Linked DNA regions of Homo sapiens: regions 2 and 3 are each linked to region 1. The links come from fine-mapping of genetic effects on plasma protein levels. Region 1 holds a variant in brackets. A gene starts in each other region. All regions are shown on their reverse strands.

Evidence for each region. PIP is the posterior inclusion probability: the model's chance that the variant is causal. The UK Biobank Pharma Proteomics Project read protein levels with antibody pairs (Olink). The fine-mapping took linkage between variants from a reference panel, not from the people measured, so its PIPs are less certain.
Region 2: it holds the start of F13B, and the variant in region 1 is fine-mapped to the plasma level of the F13B protein (UK Biobank, PIP above 0.99).
Region 3: ERI1 starts here. The variant in region 1 is fine-mapped to the plasma level of the ERI1 protein (UK Biobank, PIP above 0.99).

The regions. Positions count from the first base shown.
Region 1 is chr6:6,314,852-6,323,035 of GRCh38, reverse strand. It overlaps F13A1 (coagulation factor XIII A chain), which reads left to right and starts at 2,374. Exons shown (of 15, transcript NM_000129.4): 1 at 2,374-2,449; 2 at 4,354-4,501. The coding sequence starts at 4,372. The region is part of intron 1 of LOC124901253 (a long non-coding RNA gene); the gene reads right to left. The variant G/T (reference allele first, on the strand shown) is at 4,474.
Region 2 is chr1:197,062,293-197,070,476 of GRCh38, reverse strand. F13B (coagulation factor XIII B chain) reads left to right here and starts at 3,217. Exons shown (of 12, transcript NM_001994.3): 1 at 3,217-3,317; 2 at 7,420-7,620. The coding sequence starts at 3,254. RefSeq lists an enhancer at 910-2,109.
Region 3 is chr8:8,996,316-9,004,499 of GRCh38, reverse strand. ERI1 (exoribonuclease 1) reads right to left here and starts at 1,603. Exons shown (of 7, transcript NM_153332.4): 1 at 1,329-1,603. The coding sequence starts at 1,436. It overlaps LOC105379227 (a long non-coding RNA gene), which reads left to right and starts at 1,758. Exons shown (of 3, transcript XR_002956680.2): 1 at 1,758-1,839; 2 at 7,172-7,288. RefSeq lists an enhancer at 5,731-5,790.

The DNA of each region.
Region 1 (8,184 bases):
AAGATGGCAGAGGAAGATGATAGGGAAGAAAGATGGAAGCCAAATGGCAGAAGCTTAGTGATGAAGAGGAGGAGAGGAGAAACAACAGTGGAAGGCAGGGAGGGTAGATTGGTGTTGGGGGAAGGTTTTTTAAAAATACTGGAGACCTCAAATTGTATGGATGCTGAGGGAAAGAGCAGTGCTAGAGGCAGGGTCCAGCTTGTATAGGCCTTGTCAGTTTCAGCTTGCAATTTATCCAAAAAGCAAAGAGAAGTAGCCATATAAGGGCTTTGTGCAAATAATTTGATTTCGGATTTTAGCCCTGAAATGCTCATTCTGACTGCACTGTAGAGAATGGACTGGAAAGGGGTACATACACGGGTAGATTCAAGGGCTGTTTAAGAGGTAGGATAGAAAATATTTGCTCAAGGATCGGATTTGATGATTGAGGGAGAGAAACAAGGAAGCCTCAAGAATGATGCCCATGTGTCTGGTGTACCACCTGCGTGCAAAGTGATGGTATTCATTGAGGTAGGGAACTCCTGAGATGCACCAGGTTTTCCAGGAAAGTGATACATCTCATGTTAGACATGATGAGCGTGTGTTGTCACTGGGATGTGACAAATGAGGATAGCCAGTAGGCACTTAGATACGGGAATCTGCAATTCTGGAAAAGATCTTGGCTAAAGACCCAGATTTGGGAGGTGTCAGGATATAGATGGAATTTGAAAACTATGGGAGTTCCTCAGACAATCAAGGAATATTGCGCTGCACTGGAGGAAACCACAGAGTGTTCAATGTCAAGGAGGCCTAGGAAAAATACCTTCAAAGACAGAGTTCAATGCTTCCAAAAGGTCAGGTAAATAAGAACTGAATCCTGTCTTTTGGCCTGAGCACAGGCCTTGGAGACCGTGACCTCCACTTTCAGTAGAATGATGAGGCGGAAGCCAGATGGCAGATACTTAGTGATGAAGGGGAGGAGAGGAGGAGTAACAGCAGGAGTGGGGACATAGGTTGGGGGAGGTTTTTAAAAAAATACTGAAGAGACCTGAAATTGCATGAATGCTGAGAAGACCCACTATTAGCAAGCAGGAGCTTGAAGCTGCAAGAGGAAGAGTACGTAAGAGTCACAGCAAAGCCCCGGAGAACAAGGCAACGCAGAAGCCTGGTTTGGAGATGCAGAGGGAGGAGGGACCTTTCCAACTTCAGTAACAAGAAGAAAGAGGAAAAGATAGATAAGGTTGCAGGCAGGTTCATAGATTGGTAGCAGAAAATTGAGAGAATTTCTAACCAATGGCATCTTTTTTTTTCTTCTTTATAACATTGGGAGATTGAGTGGCAGGGTCAGAAATTTGAAGACAGTAAAGAAGGTTAGAAATAGCCATGTTTGACTGGGTGCGGTGGCTCACGCCTGTAATCCCAACACTTTGGGAAGCCAAGGAGGGTGGATCACCTGAGGTCAGAAGTTCGAGACCAGCCTGGCCAACATGGTAAAGCCCCATCTCTACTAAAAATACAAAAATTAGGCGGGCATGGTGGCATGCACCTGTAGTTCCAGCTACTTGGGAGGCTGAGGCAGAAGAATCACTTGAACCCGGGAGGTGGAGGTTGCACTCCAGCCTTTGCAACAGAGCAAGACTTCATCTGAAAGATAGAAAGATGAAAGAAAGAAAGAAAGAAAGAGTAAAAGAAAAAAATTAAAATTTTAGGGGGAAAATTTTCTAATTTTTGAACATGCACTAAAATGATTTTCAGAGAAAACCAAGTGTTATTTTCTAATCTGCATGGCATTATTAAAGATGTTTACTCATCTTCCTTGGGGCTAGGCATCCCATTCCTGCAGGAAGTCTTGTGGTTAGGCGGTGGCTGTGGCTCTGGGATGATTCAGGAATGCAGACCATGCCTTATTTGCACAGGAGGGACACGTTGCTCTCACTGCATGCATGGTCACAACTGTCTGTGTGACCTGTCTGTGGGAGGGCAGACCCCCCTCCTGCCAAGCCACAGTAGCAGCTGACCTGCCAGGCAAAAGCATTCCTTTGTAAAGGAAACCCTCCCAGACCCTCTGACCAAAGGGGACGGGTGGGGACTTCCTGGCACTGCAGGGCCCCTTGCCTGGTACTCCCAGCAACTGGTTGCGGTGGGGAGGGCAGATCTAGGGATGGGGATGGGGAGGAGAAGTGGGAATGGGAAATTGGGAGTCAGAGGGGCAAGTGGGAGAGAAGGGCGCACCTGCCGGGATAACAGGCCAGATGAAGTAAATAGAAAATCCTCTGAGCTCCCCTACTGGCTCCAGCTGTGGAGAAGGGGGAGGAGAAAACCCTGTGGGACAGGGGAGGAGGGTGAGGGCTCCTCTTAGGAAGTTATTTAAGAGCCAACTGTCTTGTCTTTCCCGAGTCCGTTTGAGGAAGTCCCCGAGGCGCACAGAGCAAGCCCACGCGAGGGCACCTCTGGAGGGGAGCGCCTGCAGGTAAGCCACCGACCCTGCACCCTATGAGCCAGGGCCCGCTGCGTCCACCTTCTGCACCTCGGTTTCCTGGTTGAACCAGCAAGCGGCTTGCTCTGGGCCCTGTGGCGCCGGTCACAGGCAGCTCCACTTGCCCAATCCTGGCTTCCCGCCCCCAACTCCGCACCTGCCCAGCCCAGCTTCTAAGCGGGACTTCTCTCAGGCTCTCGAGGCAGCTCTCCCGAAGCCGTTGCTTGCTTAGAATGCCACCAAATGGGGATGGGGGAGTTGGAGGTGCTTCCCCAAGGGACGAGCCCCCTTTCCTCAGGGAGCAGATTATGGAGCTGGAACACAAAAGGTGGAGGGAGTGGGGCCAAGTGAGAACAGCCTGCTAGACTGGAACCCCGCCGGCTTGGCTCCCCACTCCTGCGCGCCTCCCCACTCCTGCGCATCGCCTGCCTCCGTCCCAATTTGGAGCTGAACTCGAGCCACTTCTCCTCCTTAGACCCGCCCAGAAGCGAGGGCTCCTGCCCGCCGCACTCACCCAGCCAGGCGTGCACCTGGGGCTCCCCCCTTCTCCCCCTTAGCACTGTGTCTCCCGACAGCGCGCCACACTGTTCTGCACCCCTGGCAATGCCGCAGCCTACCTTCGGTATTTCTCACTAGAGGATGGCTCTCGCAGCCTTCTCCCTATCATTAACCCTTTTTCGCTCTTCTCCCTCCCTTCCCCCGTCAGCTCACCAATGACTGTAAATATATTTATCTATACTTATGGATACCCATTCACACCTTATGCATCCAAACACTCCTGTCTCCTTCTCAGACCAGACACCTTAGGCGTGGTTGTCTTTTCTCCAGCATGTTGTTAGTGCTCCACATGTCTCTGGAACCATCTCTCTACTCTGGTGGCCTCTATAATGGGGACTCTTCACCTCTTGGGGGTGTGCCTGGTTTTTGAAAATAGCCAAGTCTCCAGGAGTCATGACTGGGTAATCCAGGGGATCAAGGGGGAACCTTCACTGGGCCCAGAAACAAAGTCCCCCTTCATTTGGTCATTTGGTCAACAAGTACTTACTGGGCACTGACCGTCAGGTGTGTGTTGTTTAAACTGGCTCAGTGCCTGCACAAGCTCCAAGGGAAGGGGAAGCAGGCTTGGGGAATGGGAAATGTTGGCAACCCTGACTTCTTAAGCCTATTGATAGCCCTATTGAAAATTGCATGCCCAACCTCTCCACCTCCTTATCCTCCTCCATGTGGCTCAATTTCCAAAGCAGTTCCTACCTCCTCACCCCTAAGTGGATTTACTTATGGCTCTTCTTGGGCTCCACCCTAACCCTATCAGACTATAATCTATCAGAGCAAACATTCTGTTTTGTTCTCTGATGTATCCCATGTACCTAGATCACAGCCTGGCATGTCATAGGCCCTCAATAAATATTGGTTGAATTAAATTGCAAATGTAAACGCTTTAGAAGACAACATTTGTCTGGACATGGTTGTGTGCGTTTATTCTTAAAAGTGACTTATAATCTCATAAATCTGTATGAAATGAACATAGATACAGCACATGCATATAACAGGAAACATTTCTTGCGAAGATGCTGCTGTAGGATTATGGAGGGTGGGGGAATCTGGGTCTCCAAAAATCTTTTAATTTTTAAATTTCTTTGAATAAGCCCCTTTTCTTCTGCTTTCCATATGTTTTGACACATACAAAAATCTCCCCAAGATCCTTGGGGAACTGTATTCCATCATTAGACTAATCCTTGCTGCCACTTCTCAGTTTTTATTTATGCAAACGGCAAAATGTGTTGCTCAAGTGCTATCACACACAGATATATCTGTTTCTCTATTTTGGAATCCTTGTCTCAAATGTTACTCACTTTACATGCCTTTTCTGTTGTCTTCTTTTTTTTTTTTTTCTGAAGGACCTTGTAAAGTCAAAAATGTCAGAAACTTCCAGGACCGCCTTTGGAGGCAGAAGAGCAGTTCCACCCAATAACTCTAATGCAGCGGAAGATGACCTGCCCACAGTGGAGCTTCAGGGC[G/T]TGGTGCCCCGGGGCGTCAACCTGCAAGGTATGAGCATACCCCCCTTCCCCACCACTCTGGGTCCAGGCACAGCCGGGCCCTGGCCCCTCTTCCCTGCAGGTAAACATCCTCTGTCTCCACTGGGGTTCCCACAAAAGGAAGCCCCCTGCCAATCTCTGGTTTTATAAAGGAAGAAAGCAAAAGCTTTCTTTTAAGTGGTGAAAGCACCGAAGACCCAGAGCCTTGTCCCAGTTCTGCCCCTTACTGACCTTGTAACCTCAGAGAAGTTGCTTTGTCTTTCTGCCTCTCAACTATTTCCTCTACAAAACCAGAGTGCTGGATTAGCTAGGGCCTCTTCCAGCCCTACTGCTCAATGCTTTAGAGAATTTTCTCTAGCTGGAATATTCCACTTCCAAAATATTGTGGCTGTTTTGATTGTCTGGCTTGCACCTCCTTCCTTCTCCCTCCTCCCTCCTCCATCCATTGCTGTGAATTTCAGAGCCGGGGAGAAGTGCCAGACTCTGACAGTAATAGAGATAGAAGCCCTCTATTTCTCTCCAGAGCAGCCTGGTGAGCTGGCAAGGCAAGCTGCTTCCCCAGCCTCTTGCCTCTGCCTGATCCCTAGAAACCTGTTCCGGGTACAGCAGCCGGCAGCTGACCTCCTCTCAGCCCTGTCAGTGGTGACAAGGTCCAGGTGCCAGCACTGGTTTGGTGATACAGACATCATTCCCCTGGGCCATGGCAGGGACATTCAGACTCATGTCCCCGAGTGGCATTGAGCAGGGAGTCTTTTTTGTCAATAACATTCATGCACCAAAATCTAATTTTACTCCTAAGGGTGTTCTGTGCTGGGTTTCACTGGGGATAAACACCTATTTGCTGGGATAGGTGAGCATGGTCATGCTGGAGCTGTGTGGTCGATTCCCCTCATTAGAAGGAGACCAATGCCTGAAAGCCCAGATTGATGCAGCTCTCCATATAGCAAAGGGAAAGGGGAAGTGCAGTTTATCCAGCAAGCCAGACACTTGCCCAGGTGTTGTGGACTGGTGTCATTGTGTTACTGTCACACTAGATGATTTGATATCAAATAGTGAAATCAGGGAGGTATCCAGTACCATCCAAGTTTGGGAAAAGAAGTTCACAGAACAGAAGGGCATCTTCAGTCAGGTGGTAGAGTTTGAGGGGCTAAGACGAACTTGTAGTTCTGAAATCTGTCTCCCAGCTGGATGCCACTCTCTAAAACCCCACCTTGACAGCCACAGAACTGAGTTTAAGAGGACTTGCTAATCAATGAATCCTCATCCCCATGTTATATGTTAGGAAATAGAGGCTGAAGGTAAGCAGTTGATATTCACTGCTTACCCAGTCTACGAGTCTTTTTCTTTAAGAATGCAAATAAAATGCAAAAGCCTACAGATATCAAATTATTAAGCAGGTTGCCTTTGTGTATTCCATCTTCTAGCAAAATTCCCCTGTGGCCCAAAAGACTCTGGGCCCCCGGAAAGGGGGTGTAGGCACTGGAAGAAGTGGGCAGTAAGAACAGGAGGAGTAATGACACAACCGTCCTTGCCACGAGGAGTCAGGACACAGCCACCCTTGCCAGGATTGGGAAAAACGGGAACCTCTACAAAGGCAGTGCAGGGAAGCAGGGAAGCAGAGAGCAGAGGCAGAAGACCTGGCTTCCTGTTCCACATCTGCCACTTCTTGCTCACTCTGGGAAAGTCATATTGGTGCCCAAGCCTCAGTTTCTCCATCAGCAAAATGGAAGCAATGCCTACTTCACAGATTGTCGTGAGCATCTAGTGAGCAGTGTCTGTGATCAAGTCTGACCCACAGCACGTGACCAATAAGTGTTCATTGACTGGGAATGTGCAACTTATCATATCCCAGCAAGGTCAGGAAAGCACTCCAGGGAATACTTGTTCCTATGAGGAATATGTACGACCTGTAGCCCCCATAAATCTGACATCTGAACAAAATGCTGCTAGTAAGACATTAAAACTGTCAGAGAACATGTGCAGGTAGGCCAATTAAGAAAAATAAAATCTGGGATTACTGCTTTTGTTGATTTCTGGAGGCACAGGTGGGGAGCAGCATAACTGAATTACTCTGAAAAAATCAGTCATTATTTACTTGGCAGACATATGTGTCCACAACCCAAGTGACATTCTGGGATATCCATTAGAGGCACTGGCATAGGAATATGAATGTCCAGTGACTGTAGAATGAATGAACGAACAGTCAATCACTTGTGAATTGAATGACTCATAGCTCTAGTGGCATTATAATTTATTATTAATAACAAGCTACAGATTTCATACATATGCATTCATTTAATATTTTTCACAGACAAGATAAGTGTTACATGCTCTGGGGATACGGTTTCTGAAGCCCAGAATCATGACAGCAAGTCCCAGATGAGAAGGACAGGAAAAAAACTATATATATATATATATATATATATATATATATATATATATATATATATATATATATATATATATGCACACACACATAGCAGCACACAAACCATCTGAACAAGGAGGTCTATCTCCTGGTTACCTTTTGCATTTCAGATTTATATTTAATTGTTCTAAAAGCAGGTTTTCTGGCACTATATATCAAGTTTTCTCCAAGTCACTAAGGGACGAAATTTGCTAAGCGACTAAACCTTGGAAAGAACACTCATTTTTAAAATGCCATCTTCATGCAGTTCACCCAGTGGCCACTAGTGGCCTCTAAGAGGCCTTGTATCCGCGGTTACCAATCTGCGGATGATGACTTTGGCTCCAGGAACACCAGCCCCAAGTTAAACTCTTGTCTCCATTTTTTTCAGTGGCCACTCTTCCAGTTAGCAAGCTGCTCTTGTAATACTGACTGAGAAATGCAGAGAGGCAAGAAGAGGAAAAGGGGGGAAATGGCGGCTTTTTCATTTCTAATAGTTCTGTAGCAGTGAGTCCTGCCCATCACTGTGTGTGATATATACAGTGTTCTAAGGTATACTGAGTGTATATAACGCCCTTAAGTCATGGCTTTGGTAACATTTGGTTAAGAATTATTTTGGTAAAATCTGTATTTTAAAATGTATAAACTCATGTAAGTTTCCTCTCATACACACCATGATATTCAAGAAAAAAAAAATGAAATATTTGAGGTAGGCACGGAAATCCCAGAGGTGGGACCAGCCATTCAGTGGTAGCGTTTGACATCTTTGCATGATTTTAGGCATCTTTAATGTCACCCTTTGAATTCAGTTGTAGCCAGGAAAGGTACTGAGACGATCTCCTCAGATTTGGATTTGTATCAATTTCTAATAGACTGTTCTGCAGGCTTAGTTGGTGTTTCTGAAAAATCTCTCCACTGCCTTCCTGGTCTGAAAGGTTATGTGTAGCTGGAAATGTAATATTCCAGAAGAAACCTTATGTTGTTGGTCTGCTTTGGCTCTATATTGTTAACAATAGGCGACCATTTGTAGCAGTAATTGGAATCATTTAACAGTTCTATTGTATTGAATTAAAACTGGAAAGCAAGCCTGGCCCTATTTAAAAACTGGGTTCTAGTAGTTTTTCAGGCTAATGGGGTCTTATACCTTTCTAAGAATCTCCTCCATCCCACCACTCCTTGTCAGAATTAAATCAACCAATTAATGATAAACCTCCTCTTTGTGCAGAGTAAACCTCTCTGGATTGAAGGTTACTGAGAGACTAAGAGGCATTCAGTGTATGACTGAG
Region 2 (8,184 bases), not on the chromosome of region 1:
AACATAATCCCAAACTTCTTGGAGGCTTTATTCACTTAAATTTTTTTCTTTGTCTTTTTTGGATTGGATTACTTCGAAAACCTTGTCTTCAAGCTCTGAAGTTCTTTCTTCTGCTTGTTTTATTATATTGCTGAGACTTTCCAGTACATTTTGCTTTTCTCTAAGTGTGTTCTTTATTTCTTGAAGTTGTGACTGTTTTTTATTTATGCTATCTATTTCACTGAAGATTTCTCCGCTCATATCTTGTGTCATTTTTTTGATATCCTTAAGTTGGATTTCACCTCTCTCTGGTGCCTCCTTGATTAGCTTAATAATCAAACTTCTGAATTCTTTTTCTGGCAGTTCAGGAATTTCTTCTTGGTTTGGATCCATTGCTGATGAGCTAGTGTGATTTTTGGGTGGTGTTAAAGAACCTTGTTTTGTCATAATACCAAAATTGTTTTTCTAGTTCCTTCTCTTTTGGGTAGGCTATGTCAGAGGGGAGATCTGGGGCTCAAGGCTGCTGTTCAGATTCTTTTGTCCCACGGGGTGCTCCCTTGATGTAGTATTCTCCCCCTTTTCCTAGGGATGTGACTTCCTGAGAGCCAAACTGTAGTGATTATTATTACTTTTCTGGATCTAGCCACCAGAAGGGCTACCAGGCTCTGGGCTGGTACTGGGGGTTGTCTGCATAGAGTCCTGTGATGTAAACTGTCTTCAGTTCTCTCAGTCATGGATACCAGCACCTGTTCCAGTAGAGGTGGCAGGGGAGTGAAAGGAACTCTGTGAGGGTCCTTAGTTGTAGTTGTTTGATGCACTAGTTTGGTGCTGGTTGGCCTCCTGCTGAGAGGTGAAGCCAGCTGGACTTCCTGGGTCGAATGGGGACTTGGAGAACTTTTCTGTCTAGCTAAAGGATTGTAAACACACCAATCAGCGCTCTGTGTCTAGCTAAAGGTTTGTAAATGCACCAATCAGCACTTTGTAAAAACAGACCAACCAGCACTCTGTAAAATGTGCCAATCAGCGGGATGTGGGCGGAGCCAAATAAGGGAATAAAAGCTGGCCACCCGAGCCAGCCGCAGCAACCTGGTCTGGTCCCCTTCCAGGCTGTGGAAACTTTGTTCTTTCGCTCTTTGCAATAAATCTTGCTGCTGCTCTCTTTTTGGGTCTGCACTACCTTTATGAGCTGTAACACTCACCGCGAAGGTCTGTGGCTTCACTCCTGAAGTCAGCAAGACCTCGAACCCACCAGGAGGAAGAAACAACTCCGGACGCACCATCTTTTAGAGCTGTAACACTCACTGTGAAGGTCTGCGGCTTCACTCCTGAAGTCAGCAAGACCAGGAACCCACCAGAAGGAAGAAACTCTGGACACATCTGAACATCAGAGGAACAAACTCCGGACACACCATCTTTAAAAACTGTAATGCTCACCGCAAGCGTCCGCAGCTTCATTCTTGAAGTCAGCAAGACCAAGAACCCATTGGAAGGAACCAATTCCAGACACACTGCCATGAGGTAGTGCTTTCATGAGAGCATCAGCTGTGGTATATAGGGGAGGATCAGGTGGTGGGTGGGACACTAGAACTTCCAAGAGAATATGACCTTTGTCTTCAGCTACCAGGGTGGGTAGGGAAGGACCATCAGGTGGGGGCAGGGTTAGGCATGTCTGAGCTCAGAGTCTTCTTGGGTGGGGCTTGTTGTGGCTCTGTGGGGAATGGGGGTGTGATTCCCAGGTTAATGGAGTTACCTTCCCAGGAGGATTATGGCTGCCTCTTCTGTGTCATGCAGGTTGTCAGGGAAGTGGGGGAAAGCTGGCAGTTACAGACCTCACCCAGCTCTCACACAACCCAACAAGCAAATCTCACTTCTACTGTGTTCCCCCAAAAAGCACCGAATTTGTTTCCAGGCAGTAGGGGAGCAGGATTGAGAACTTGCCCCAGGCTACTAGCCTCCCAGCTGAGAATGCAAGCCAGACTTTTGTGCCTCCCTACCTGTTAAGTCTGCACACCAGATTCACGCCCTTTCCTGAGTTCTGGACAGGAAAGTTTGTGTTCGGTTGGAATTGTTACTAAGTTCAGCTGGAGGTTTCCTTCTCCCTGTGGTCTTTTCCCAGTTCCTCCGGCAGCCCCTGTGAGACAAGTCAGAAATGGCTTCTCTGGGGACCCACAGAGACGATGGGGCTTTACCCTTTGCTTCCTCTACCCCTGTATTTCGCTCAGCTCTCTAAATTGTCTGAGCTCCAGGTAAGGTCAAATCCTTCTCCTGTGATCTAGACCTTCAGGTTCCCCAAGGGTGTGTGTTCAGGGGTGGACAATACCCCTTTCACACTTTTCACAGTTTGGGCATTCACAGTATGTGGGCTATTTTCTGGGTCATGCAGGAGCAATATACTTTCTTCAGAGGGTCTGTGGATTATCTTGGCTTTCCTGTTATATCCTTGCAGCAGTTCTTGGAGCAAAAGTTCACAATGCGAGTCTCCACATCCTGCTCTGTCCATCCAAGTGGGAGCTGCAAGTTAGTCCTGCCTCCTATCCACCATTTTTTCCTATTTTGTATTTTAAATTAAAACTCATTAGAATGTAAACTCCATGAGGGCAATAATTTTAATCCAGTTTTTTCACTGCTAAATACCTCAAAACTGTTACATGTGCTGCCATTATCATGGACGTTCTAAACATTTCTCATGAATGAATGTTGATATAGCACAGTGCTGATCTCACCACCTGCCACAAAGTAAAAACTCTCTAAATGTCAAACACTACTATTATAAGTAATACTATTCTATCATTGAGACAACTATGGTTCTGTATCTCTTTAAGGAGTGCAGTCTAGGCAACAACATATTTCAACATCAGGTATCTGTTATCTCATGTTCCTAAGTTCATCTTTTTACCTGATCAATATTAGTAAAGATCTATGGCCTCAAGTGAACTTTACTCTATGAATTTACAATTGGGAACTTAGGTTGAAAATTTACCTAGTATTATTTATTCTGCTGCTATAATTTATTATTTATTCTGCTGCTATTGTTGCCCTAATCAGTTATCATGCTCTTACTGGACTCTGACATGGTAAGTAATGTCAATTAATATAGTTGTGTTATTTTAACATTATTTCAAAATATTTTAAGTGAAATATAAGACTCGTTACAAAAGGACTTAGACAGAGGTTATAAATTATTAACTTTTTCCTCAAGAGAAGTATTGTGTACTTAATGACAAGTTCCTAGTGCTTAGAATTGTTAAAATCTTTGTGAAGCACACCACTGAAGATGAGGTTGAAAAACCTGACTTTTATCATCATATTGATAATCTCAGGAGAACTCTATGCAGAAGGTAAAATTAATTCTTAATATTCTTTATTCTCTAAAACATACAAATGGAGATTCTAATATTTATACAACTCAAGTTTTAATATACTCTTCTATTTTCATTATCAATTTTATAACATATTTTATAAATATAACTTTTTATAATATTTAGACCTTTTCCTTTGAGCAAAATTAGTAAAGTGTTCTTACAGTAGCATAAGTCAGAAAAGCAAAACAAAACAAAAACCCTTGTATCTCTAGGGGGCATAGGAGACCAGGATCTAAATACTTCGAAAAGGTTTTCAGGTTAACAATATGTCCATTTCGAAGTCACATGTTAACTTTAATTCTAAATTTATGCTAGAATCCATTCCTAATACTGACAAAACTTGTACAATTTTAATTCTGTTCATAAGGTGAGAGTTTAATGTGGGAAATTTGAAAAGGAAATAGCCATAAATATTTTTTACTTTTGAGACTTTGATTTTTATCACAATGAATTATTCATTTGTTGGAGACATTAAGTAGTGATTAGTAGGTGAACCATATAATTGCTTGTACAAACAGGGACACTTAGAGAGTAAAAGAGGGGCTCTATTAATAACTGTTTGGACAACACATGTAAATCAGGACTTTCCAAACAAACCAATACCTATGGACTCCCTATTAGAAAGCTTTATAGTCAGATTGCCCAATGTGTAAGATTAGTGTGCGAGTGGAAGCTAGGCAGTGTACATGGGTATGTTGTTCAGGAACATTATCAATATTATCAGGCCATAGGATGAAGAATCCAGGGAGGACACTTAGCATTAGCAAGAGTGAACATACAAAGAAGGAAGCTACAGCAATACAGCTTTTCTAAAATAAACATTTTTGGGAATTTGTTGAAATTAAATACATAAGTTTTAACTGTGTTTTAGTTGAATAGTTAACTATAAATTTTCTACCAAAACATCTATAATTAAAATTATAAAAGTGAAAGACACAGAATTAATCTTATTTTATACTTTTAATTCTATAATAGGATGATTTTTGCATGAATTTCTTTTGATTTTATTTTTCTGTCTAAATAGGGAAATACCAGCAGATATAATTGTCTGTTATCTATACCATAAAGACATTGCAATATTCTAGTTAATTTTCTAATTATTATAAGGTTATAATGCTATTTTACACAACAAAAAAAAAAGTAAGCTGCTTGAAGACCAAGACAATGATTTTATTTTTGCATGCTTCTCTCAACTCCCATTGTGCACTTCAGGGACAAGAATTGAATTAATTGTGTTTCTCATTTCATGGTATGCAAGTATTATTGGCCTATGAAAGGTCTCACTCTTGCTTTACTTACACATTTTATCCCCTTATTCCTAATCTTGAAGTCCATTTCCCCTGGGACCTACTACAATGTTTTAACATGTTACTCTAGCTCTCTCAACCACAAATAGCTCTGGAATGAATATTGTAATATAACCAACTTATCTTTCTGTAAGAATGTCATCAGTCTGTATTCACTCACAGATAGCATTATTGAGTCTATTCTTGTACTTGATTTCTGTAATGAGAGATTACTTTTGCAGAATGGCAGTTTTGAAGTATATCATCTCTGAGAGAGGATGTAAATTGTTGCTCCTCATCATTCTCACCAACACCTCATATTGTCCATTTTTGTACTGGTTGCTATATGGTTATTCATAAAGTGATATCCCATTTTTATTTATTTACCATTCTCTGATCAGTAGTAAGTGTGTCCATCGCTTCATGTACTTTTTTTAATATGTTCAGACATCTGTGATTTCCTGGTTTATATGTGATTAGTATATTCCTCACATTTCTCATTAATTTTTTGTCAGGAATTCATATTCTCCAAGGCATTCCAGCTACCTTAACAAATAATGTGCCTATCCTGGTGGTGGAGGGAGATGTCCCAGGACAGAGAGTCTTTAAAGCCACAACCTAGGATTGTTGTGCAGAGAATACTTTGCTGCCCCTCCCTGACAAGCAACTGTGCCCCTCAGGGAAATTTCTTGTGTATTCACCATTGCACTGCTATTTTGGAAGACTCTTTTTATTGTAAATTCCTTTGGTGCTTGGGTGTGAAAAAATGGTGAGAATAATTCTCAAGGAATGGGGACTATCCAGCCCATGTTTTTCTGTCTGCTCCATCAGATAGTGGAAGTTTTGTTGCTCATCATTCCACATCCATTTCCTTCAAACCTAGGCTAGCACTACTAGTATTTTATGTCTCATAGTAGCATTAAGGTATACAGTGATCAACCAAGGCATTGAAGCCGTAGTAATCACACTGGATCTAGGCCTTCTTCCATCCATGACTGCCCATGTTTCTTCCCACCACAGCTCCTAGGATTGTTCGAGCATTTCTTTCTTTTAAGTGTTTTTATGACTTTAAGATCTTCAACATAAAGATATATTTTTAAAATATATGTTTTATTTGGAGTATAACATATCCAGAAAAATGCAAAAATCACAGGATACACTTATATAGTTTTTACAAAATTTTACACCATCCAGATCAAGATATAGAACAGTGATAGTACCCCAGAAATATGATCCTTCTAAGGCACTAAACCCCAAAGGTAACCATTCTGACTTCTATTATCATGGATTAGTTTGTTTTCTTTTAAAAAGTTATGCAAATGTATACATTAATTCATATGTGATTGGCTTCTTTCACTCAATATTATGTTTATGAGATTCACCATTTGTTCATTTCTGTTGTTGGATAATATTCCATTGTATGCATAGTCTAAAATGTGTTTATCTTTTCTATTATTTATGGGCATTTAGATTGTTCCCAGTTTGGGACTATATGAATACTGCCACTATAAGCATTTTTTTCCATGTCTTTTGGTATACAAATATGTGCTTTTTTTATTGGGTAATATGGTTTGTACATGTTTTACCCCAATATATATTGCAAAGGTGTTCTCTCATAGAGTTTGGACTGATTTATACTTTCAGTTGTAGAAATATGCGAGTTCCAGTTTCTTCACTTCTTCACAATCATTGAGATAGCTTGTCTTTTTCATTTCAGCAGTTCTATTGGATATGCAGTAGTATCTCATGGTGGTTTAAATTTTCATTTCCCTGATGACTAGTAATGCTAAGTACCAGGTCTCTAACCATTTAAATATCCTATTTTGCCAAGTTCTTGCCAAGTATTGCTTTGTTTTACTTGGTTGTCTGTTTTTTCTTTTAATGCTATTTATTTCAAAATTTTTTATGAGTTAGCATATGTTAAGGAGAAACTTTACCTATTCCTGAACTGTACTGTCCAATACAGTGGCCATCAGCCACATATAGCTATTGGAGACAGTACTTAAAATGTCACTAGTTCAAGATCAGATATTCTGTAAGTATAAATATGTAGTGGATTTTAAAGAGTTAGAAAAAAAAAGAATGTAAAATATTTTCAATATATTGGGTTAAATAAAAACCTATTATTAAAACTAACTTCAATTGTTCCTTAGTATTTTTATGAATGTGACTATTAGAAATTTTTAAATTACATAAGTGACTTACAATACATATCTATTAGGAAGTGCAGGCAGGGTGGAGTGGTTCAAGTCTTGTAATCCTAGTGCTTTGGGAGGCCAAAGCAGAAGGATCCTTTGAGTCCAGGAGTTTGAGACCAGCGTGAGCAACAGAGTGAGACCCCTCATCTCTACAAAAAATAAAACAAAAATTAGCCAGATGTGGTGGCATGTGCCTGCAGTCCTAGCTACAGGAGAGGAGGCTTGCTTAAGCCCAGGAGCTCCTGGTGGCAGTGAGCTATATTTCAGCACTGCACTGAAGCTTGGATAACTGAGGAAGACTCTGTGTCTAGGAAGAAAAAAAAAAGTACTGTTCTACGAAGTTATGCAAAGCTTCCCTGAAAAAGTGGTCTGCTAAATTTTATCATGACTGTTGGATGTTTAAAGTCATTTGCAGATCAATTATGATAAAAGGACTGCTTGAGTTGTCACAAAAGTACCTTAAAAATTTAAGTAAGAAAAATAAGTACTAGTTGAAGTGTCTCTAAAAACTTTTAGTTTGTATTGTCACCTGATTACAAATTTATGTTTTTAGATTTGTTTTTCCATTTTCAGCTTGACATTTACTCATTTCAGAGAAACCCTGTGGTTTTCCTCATGTGGAAAATGGAAGAATTGCCCAATATTACTATACTTTTAAAAGCTTTTACTTTCCAATGAGCATAGACAAAAAATTGTCATTTTTCTGCTTGGCTGGTTATACCACTGAAAGTGGAAGACAAGAAGAGCAAACCACGTGTACAACAGAAGGCTGGTCTCCAGAGCCAAGGTGCTTCAGTAAGTCAGCTGGATATGTCACTCAATGTTTCAATACTCAAAGAAATTTGTATATAAAAATAGGGGTCCAATAAAAATGGAAAGCGGTTAAACCTTTTAGTAGATAAGAACAAAATCACTAGCAATCTGTCTTTCTACAAAATGAAGGCATAATTTGAAATCCAGTAAATAATGCTTTTACATTAAAATGTTATTTTCTGTATCTGTTTTTAATAATACTCTGTTGAAGGGAATAGGGTAATAACTGAAATTATCATATTGCAAGGCAAAGAGAGGTAATTTACTTTAAGTAACAAGAAACTTATTTTGATAATTAAGCATAAGATGCCAGAAAAATGCTTGAAACTCTGGCCTCTGGAAGGGCAAGATTGCTACTCTAATGCTTTATCATTTGTAAGACTCATCTCTCTTCATGTGCCAACTTCTCTCATGATACCCATTGAAAAATGTGTTTTTCAATTTTGAATTGAAAGTTTGAGTTCAAAGTTGTGAGAAGGTAATCTAATTGACTCATTTCATTATTTTATATCAGGCTACACTATCATCAAACTATCAATGATCTTC
Region 3 (8,184 bases), not on the chromosome of region 1:
AAAAAAAAAAAAAAGTATCACTATAAAGAGCATGCAACAGTAAGTTTTTAACAATTACTACCGTCACTAAAGCCAATTTGGAACAGAGACCTAGGCCTTAAGTAGCTGTAAAAGTGTCAAGACTTTCAAATATAAAGAAGCATATTCAAACACACTTCTTTTACTAAAAATAAACTTCGAAATTTATTTTAAAACCCACTTACAGGATGAGATTGACAACGTATCTCAGGCTGAAGAGGGAGGCAGGTGGAAGAGTGGTTCTTTACAAGAGAAGGGATGTGCAAGTACTCTTTGAAATAACAACCTTAGAAGGAGAAAGATAATTGCAAGGATCCAAAGGAAGTGCACACAGGGCAAAAGGAACATACAGAGATCCTTAACGAGACCTTCTTTCCAATGTCAAAGAACACAAGGCAGCGAGGGGCACTGGGAACAAAAGGGAAAAAACTGTGTGAGATGCAATTACCAAGGGAGGCAGGCACCCGACCCCGCAGAGCAGCAAATGGAAGTGACTCAGGAGGGGAATAAGCCAAATTCATGTTATTGAAAAGCTCATTCTAGCTGCCAGATGGAAACTGACTGTGGACGGAAGGAGCAAGAGTTAGGAGGCCTCTTGCAAATACGCACTTTATGAAGCTTTACGAAGTGTTCAACATGTTTATTATTAGGAAAAGATCAATTTTAGTATTCAATCACTTACAATCCGCAGCGCTAGTCAACAATTAACATTCGTTAAATAAGTTTTAAGACTGTTCTACAACTTTGCCACTGTAACTAAGTTCAACCGATGAGATGTCAAAATGATTCATTCAATCTTATACTATGGTTATATGAGACACCAGTTAATGAGCAAAAGCAGCTAAGACGAAGCTCCACTTAACAGGTACAGAGACAGGGATGCTGGTGAGTGCTTTTTAAATTTTTTCTTTTTTTAAAAACAGGCATGAAGTGACATACCTAGCGTATATGGTGAGATTTTAAAAACATAAAGCCTTGCAAACTACCCATAACGGCTACATGGAGTGACAACAGCAACCGTGAACACAGAATTAAGTTTAAAGCAAAACTCCCTCTTAGAACCTGTTAACCCACTGTAGACAGAACTGGTCTTGACGATTTCCTCCCTCCCAGAGAGTGATTCGGCCCTGAGGGGGCTCCAAGACACCCACCCGAGGATAAAGCCAGGGAGCTGGGCACCGAGGAAGAGGCTGGGGTCCAAGGGCGCACAGCTGCACCTTCTGCGGGACACCTGAGAAGAAAGGGGTGCCGAGGGCGCTTTGGGGACGGGGCAGCTGGCGCCAACAGCCAGGCGCGGGTCGACTCCTCACCTCGGGACTGGGACGCGGCGGCTCCTCCCCGCCCTCCGGCCGCGGCGACTCCAGCAGCGCGAGAGCCACGGCCTCGCCGGCAGGCTCTTTACTCTGTGGATCCTCCATGCCGGCTGTCACGCCAGAGGAGAGTTGCTGGAGCCGGACACTTGCTAACTCTCACTCTGCAGAGCCCGAAAGCCTCGCCTTTCTCCGTTGAAAAATTACCGGGCTCGCGTTCCCGCGGCGGCGGCCACACAAACTCCAGCGGCCACCTCCCACTTCCGGGAGCGTGTGGCGTCCACACGCCGGGCAGGCGCAGTGAGCCGGCGTGCGCGGAACGCCAGCGCCGCAGTCCACAGGGGGAGGGAGGACGAACAAGAGGGAGGCGCGCCGGTGAGAAGACGGGGCGTGGCCGGCCGTAGGCGGAGCTAGCGCGGGTTGAAGTTGCGCAAGGATCTAGTCCAGTCACTGGAGGGTAGCACCGGCACGTGTGTTCCCGTCAGTGTTTCCTGAGAAGGAAAAAAGTAGGGTGAGTGGGAAGATATCATAGAGAAAGATGTTTTCGACCATAAAAAATAATAAAACAATTCACATTTTCCATAAGGAGTTTCCTAAAACTTCCACTCTGGGCAAGAAAAGAAAATGGGTCGGGACTTAGTGTCCCACTATAAACAATTAGAAAACGGAACAAAATATAGGAGACACCTATTCAGACATTGGACAACGGACAGCTGTGGACTGTTTTACCTGAGAGAAAAGAAATAAAAGGAGCCGTATATCATCCTGCCCTTTTGCCCAGAGGCGATTTCCAGTCTGTGGTGCGATGAAAGGAAATCATATGGAAACCTAGGATCTCCTGGGTTGAAAAGACAGAGATTGGAGTTGACGAAATTGGGGTAGGCCAAGTCGGTTGGAATTTGTAGGGCAGAATTCTGGAGAGGAGGGAATTACATGGAAAAAGAGCTTCAGAAATCTGCTTAGGAGTACCTTGAATCTTTAACTGAATAAAAAACGTGAAACTCCACAAGGCCAGGAAAGAACAATTACTGGGGAGCAGTACACCAAACAATGGTGAGAGGTCACACAGAACTGGGAATCATTTGAGCTCCCAGCAACCAGAGTGAAGAGATTATTGAATACCATGGAACACGCAATAGAAACCTCAGATGTGAAACTGCCATTGCAAAATTATCATTGAGACAGTGAAAGAGATCAGACCTAACCAACTCCATCTTGCTTTTAACCTCCAGGCTATCCTTATTCATTCCTAGGCGTAGGCCAAACTAACACTGGGAGGAACTTAGTGTATAGCTTATAGTTTAAAACAAAGGTGATAGCCCTTTCTCAAAATAAACCCTCTTCTTGAGACTAGACTGCTTTTGTAGGACTAGTAAATTAGCCGAAAGATTAGAAATTATGATTTAGGACTCATGCAGCTGAAGGCTACAAGATTCTAACCCTCTCCAAATTGCTCCTGGGGATAATATCACTATTGTAAAATCTAAGATCAGTGCTTGAGATATTTTGCAGGCCCTGCACTTGATGGATCAGCTGGCACCTCCCAGATTGATAAACTGACTCACCTGATCTTGGATAAACTAGCTCATCTGATTTTGTGTCCCCCACGGGAGGAACTGACTCAGTGCAAGAGGACAGCATCGACTCCCTATGATTTCATCTCCTACCCAACCAGTCACCACTCCCATCTCACTGGCTTCTCACCCACCCAATTATCCTTAAAAACTCTGATCCCCAAATGCTCAGGGAGACTGATTTGATTAATAAAACTCAGGTCTCCTGCACTGCCAGCTCTGCATGAATTGCTCTTTATTGCAATTCCCCTGTCTTGATAAATCGACTCTGTCTAGGCAGTAGGCAAGATGAACCTTTTGGGTGGTTACGAAAGTGTCATGCCTTAGTGAGATATAATAACCGTAGACTGCAGGACCCAGAACATAAACTACTGTAGATTCTTCAAAAGCCTTAAAACAAGCCCTGAAAGGATCAAACTGCTCTGTAAGTAACCTAATTACCTGTAAGAACAAATTCTAAAACTCTCTGAAAGACTACAGTAAAATCCAGGATTCAACAACATTAAATTCAAAATGTGAGACATCCAGTCAAAAATTGAAAGACACGCAGCACTTGGGGATGCTGAGGCGGGAGGATTGCTTGAGCCCAGGAGTTTGAGGCTGCAGTGACCTATGATTGCACCACCACAACCCAGCCTGGGTGACAGGGTAAGACTCTGTCTCAAAAGAGAGAGAGAGAGACCAAGTGGTAAGAAAATATCTCACGAAGTTCATAGAAACAAACCCCAAAATGATAAAAATGATGGAATTAACAGACAAGGATTTTAAACACCTGTTATGAATATGCTCAAAGATTTAAAGGAAGACATGATAGGAGAGAAACTGGAAAGATTTTTGAAAAATCAAATTTCTGGATGGAGGTGAAAAATATTTGAAATAAAAATTTCTTTGGATGGGATTGCTAGCGCATTAAGCAATGCAGAGAAAAAGGTAAATAAATTCAAAGATATAGCAACAGAAACAATACAAAATGACACACACACACACAGAAAAAAGATGAATACAGCTTCAGTAACCACTTAAAGAGGCTTAATACTTCAGGACCACTTGAAGAGGCTTAATACTATTGACCTAAAAGGTAGAAGCTGAGGCAAAATTAATATAACTAGAGAGTTTATTTGGTCCAAGTTTGAGGATTGCAACCCAGGAGCATAGAATTGAAGTTGTGCTGAATCCATCTACTCAGAAGATATGCCAGTTTGGAAGTTAAGTGAACACTTAGTAACCAATCATAATTGTCTTAAGTCTTGCCCATTCTAGATTATTTGCTTTGTTAAATAGGCAATTGAGATAGGGCATAATTCCAATAACAATAATCTTTGATGGGGTTAAGTAGCCCTTTCTAACCATACATACCTCCATCTCAGCTTCTATCTCAAGAAACAACTCTTTTGACTTTGTTTCTTTGACTTCTAGAACTAGTGCAGCAGCATCAAGAAATTAGACCTGCCATAAATAAAAAGACCCAGAAGAAGATACTCTAATAAGTAGTGAGGCTTTTGTCCATGAAGCCTATGATGAGCAGCTGTGCTGGGGAAACTCCAAGAAGTTTCTCTGAGGAAATTGGATTGTGAGACACAGTTAAAGAATGTCCCTTCTGAAAAATCCTAGCTAGGTGAAAATAGTCGAAGTCAGTCAAAAAATAGTAAAAAAAAAAAAAAAAAAAAAATACAAGCTAGATGAAAATAGCTACATGAAAATTACTATCGTGCAGTAACTTTTTTTGTCTTTAGACTCTGGTTTGAGCTATTAAAGGTTGAACAAAGTGAAACATGCATGAAATAACCGAAAAGGAAGATGAGGCAAAATTAATATAAGTAGAGTTTATCTGGGCCAAGTTTGAGGATTGCAATTGTAGATTCAAGTTGCCCTGGGTATACTCAGATCAGTAGAAGCTACAAGTGAATTTTTAAAGGAAAGAGGCAGTTGCTGGGTTGTTTATCAAGAATTTACTGTAAGGCCAGGCGTGATGGCCCACACCTGTAATCCCAGCAGTTTGCCAGGCTGAGGTGCGAGGACCACTTAAGCTCAGGACCAACCTGGCCACATGGTGAAACCTCATCTCTACAGAAGGAAGGAAGGAAGGGAAGGAGGGAGGGAGGGAAGGAAAGAAAAAGAAAGACAGGCAATCAACAAAAGAAATAAGTAAAATGCTTATAGTATGGAGAAAAGTAAAACAGGAAAAGGGAATGGGAGGGTGCCCAGGTATGGAGGGGGTTACAATTTTAAATAGAATCGTTAGGGAAGACCTCTCTAATGATGTGCCATTTGTGTAAAGACTTGAAGAGGCAAGGGAGTAAACTGAGTATATATGGGAGAAGAGAAGTTTAGGCAGAGTAAACAAGTGAAAAGATCCTGAGCTGGGAGTGTACCCAAAATGTTTAAGAAATATCACTGTGTTCAGTACTTTCTTATGACTGTGTGACATCAGTATGCAGGAGACCTAAATGTTTTTATTTATTTATTTATTTATTTATTTTTTGAGACAGAGTCTCGCTCTGTAGCCCAGGCTGGAGTGCAATGGCGCTATCTTGGCTCACTGCAACCTCAGCCTCCTGGGTTCAAGAGATTCTCATGCCTCAGCCTCCCAAGTAGCTGGGATTACAGGCGCCTGCCACCACACCTGGGTAATTTTTGTATTTTTAGTAGAGGTGGGATTTCACCATGTTGGCCAAGCGAAACTCTCAAACTCCTGATCTCAGGTGACCTACCCGCCTTGGCCTCCCAAAGTGCTGGGATTACAGGCATGAGCCACCTTGCCTGGCCGATGTTTTTAAATGTTGACTCTGCTGTAACTTGCCACATAACACCAAAGGGGAAATCCCAATGACTTTAGCACCTCCTGTTTAAAATAAAATGTGTGCCATAGTTGAACAGTTAAAGAGAAAGCTTCCCTGAGTATTTCAGCTATGCAACAGTCTAAAAGAGAAGTTCGAGAATTGGTTATTCTCTATTCACCCCAGTGGAAAAATGTACCTACCCTTCCTCTAGCTTCAGTGTCCTGGGATTAGTCAGCTGTCAGTGAAGATCAATGTATTGTTAGACAGCAGGGTTAGTAAATTACTCTAGGCTGCACTAAATATGTGACTTTCACATAGCAAAATGCCTTTTGTTTCTAAGCCGTCTCCCATTGCTGCCTGATGCCACGTGTTAGATAATTCCATATGTTTAGGTCTGTATTTGAGCAACCTGCTCTGTTCTCTTGGTCTCTGGTATCTGTTCTTATACCCTTCCCACACTGCTTTCTATTACTCAGCTCTGCAATATGTCTTCATATCTTATAAAACAAGTTCCTCCTCTTTACTCTTCTTTTTCAATACTGACTTAGCTATTTGTGGATATTTAATCTTTCATGTATACTTTAGGACAAATTTTTTGCTCTTCAAAAAATCCAATCCAATCCAATCCAAAAAATTCATTAAGATTGAATTCACTCGATTGATTTGAGGAGAAATGACATATTAATTTATCCTCTTGTAATATAGAACTGCTAATTCAGATTGTCTTTTATGATGATCTTTAACATTTCACAATTTTCTCCATAGATATCTTGTACATTCGTAACCAAGAAATCCTAGATACATTATGAGTTTTTTCCCATTATGAATGGTAAATTATTTTATACCATTACATAAAATATTATTGATTTTTAAGTTAAATAAACAAAAGCAAAGAAATAAAAGACAACCAGATTAGAAACAAAGAGCCAGGCGCAGTGGCTCACACCTGTAATCCCAGTGCTTTGGGAGGCTGAGGAGGGTGGATCACCTGAGGTTAGGAGTTCGAGACCAGCCTGGCCAACATGGTGAAACCCTGTCTCTACTAAAAATACAAAAATTAGCCAGGCTTGGTGGTGCACACCTGGAGTCCAAGCTACTCGGGAGGCTAAGGCAGGAGAATCGCTTGAACCTGGGAGGCGGTGGTTGCAGTGATGCTAGATAGTGCCAGTGCACTCCAGCCTGGGTGACAGAGAGACACTCCATCTCAAAAATGAATAAATAAATGAATTAATTAAATAAACATAATACATTGGCCCTATCACCCAGCAATTCCAGTCCTAGGTATTCACTCAGGAGGAGTGAAAGTGAATGTCCAGGTGGTGGCTTGGACGTGGATATTTCCAGCAGCATTTTTCAAAATAACTGATAAATGAAATTAACTCAAATCTCCATCAACAAGTGAATGGATAACCAGAATGTGATGTATCCCTGTAATGGCATAATACTCCTCATATAATAATAAGCCTTTTTTTTTTTTTTTTTTTTTCAGAAACAAAACCTCATTCTGTCACACAGGCTGGAATGCAATGGCAGGATGGTGGCTGCCTTGACCTCTGGGACTCAGGTGATCCTCCCACCTCAGCCACTCAAGTAGCTGGGACTACAGGTACATGCCACCATGTCCAGCTAATTTTTGTATTTTTTGTAGAGACAGGGTTTCACCATGTTGCCCAGGGTGGTCTTGCACTCCTGAGCTCAAATGATCCACCTGGCCCAGCCTCCCAAAGTGCTAGGATTACAGGTGTGAGCTACCGTGCCCAGTCAATAATAAACTATTGATACATGCAATAGTATGGATGAATTTGGAAAAATCTTGAGTGAAAGAAGCCAGATGCAAAAGAAGACATACTCTAATTCCACTTATATGAAGTTCAAGAATAGGCCAAACTAATCTATGATAATAGAAATTCACAATAGTGACTGCTTCAGCTTGGGATTAGGGGTTGAGGATTAACTTGAATGGTACACAAGGGAAGTTTCCAGGTCCTGGAAATATTCTATGTGTTAATTGGGATAGTGATTATGTGATGTATATATTTATCAAAACACATTGAATTATGCATGTAAGATCTACGCATTTCACTCTATGTAACCTTGCTTTTGATGAAAAAGAAATTAAAATTTTGAAGACAAAAAATTGGTTTTTAATTTCTTTCTTTTTCTTTTTCTTCTTCTTCTTTTTTTTTTTTTTTTTTTTTGAGATGGAGTCTTGCTCTGTTGCCCAGGCTGGAGTGCAGTGGCACAATCTCGGCTCACTGCAACCTCCTCCTCCCAGGTTCAAGCTATTCTCCCACCTCAGCCTCCCAAGTAACTGGGATTACAGGTGTGCACCACCATGCCCAGCTAATTTTTGTATTTTTAGTAGATACAGGGTTTCACCATGTTGGCCAGGCTGGTCTCAAACTCCTGATGGTTTTTAATTTCTAAACATTCTTTTTTTATTAATCCCCAGAACATTCTGGATAATTTCTAAACTTTCTTGTAAATTTTAATAGTTTTATT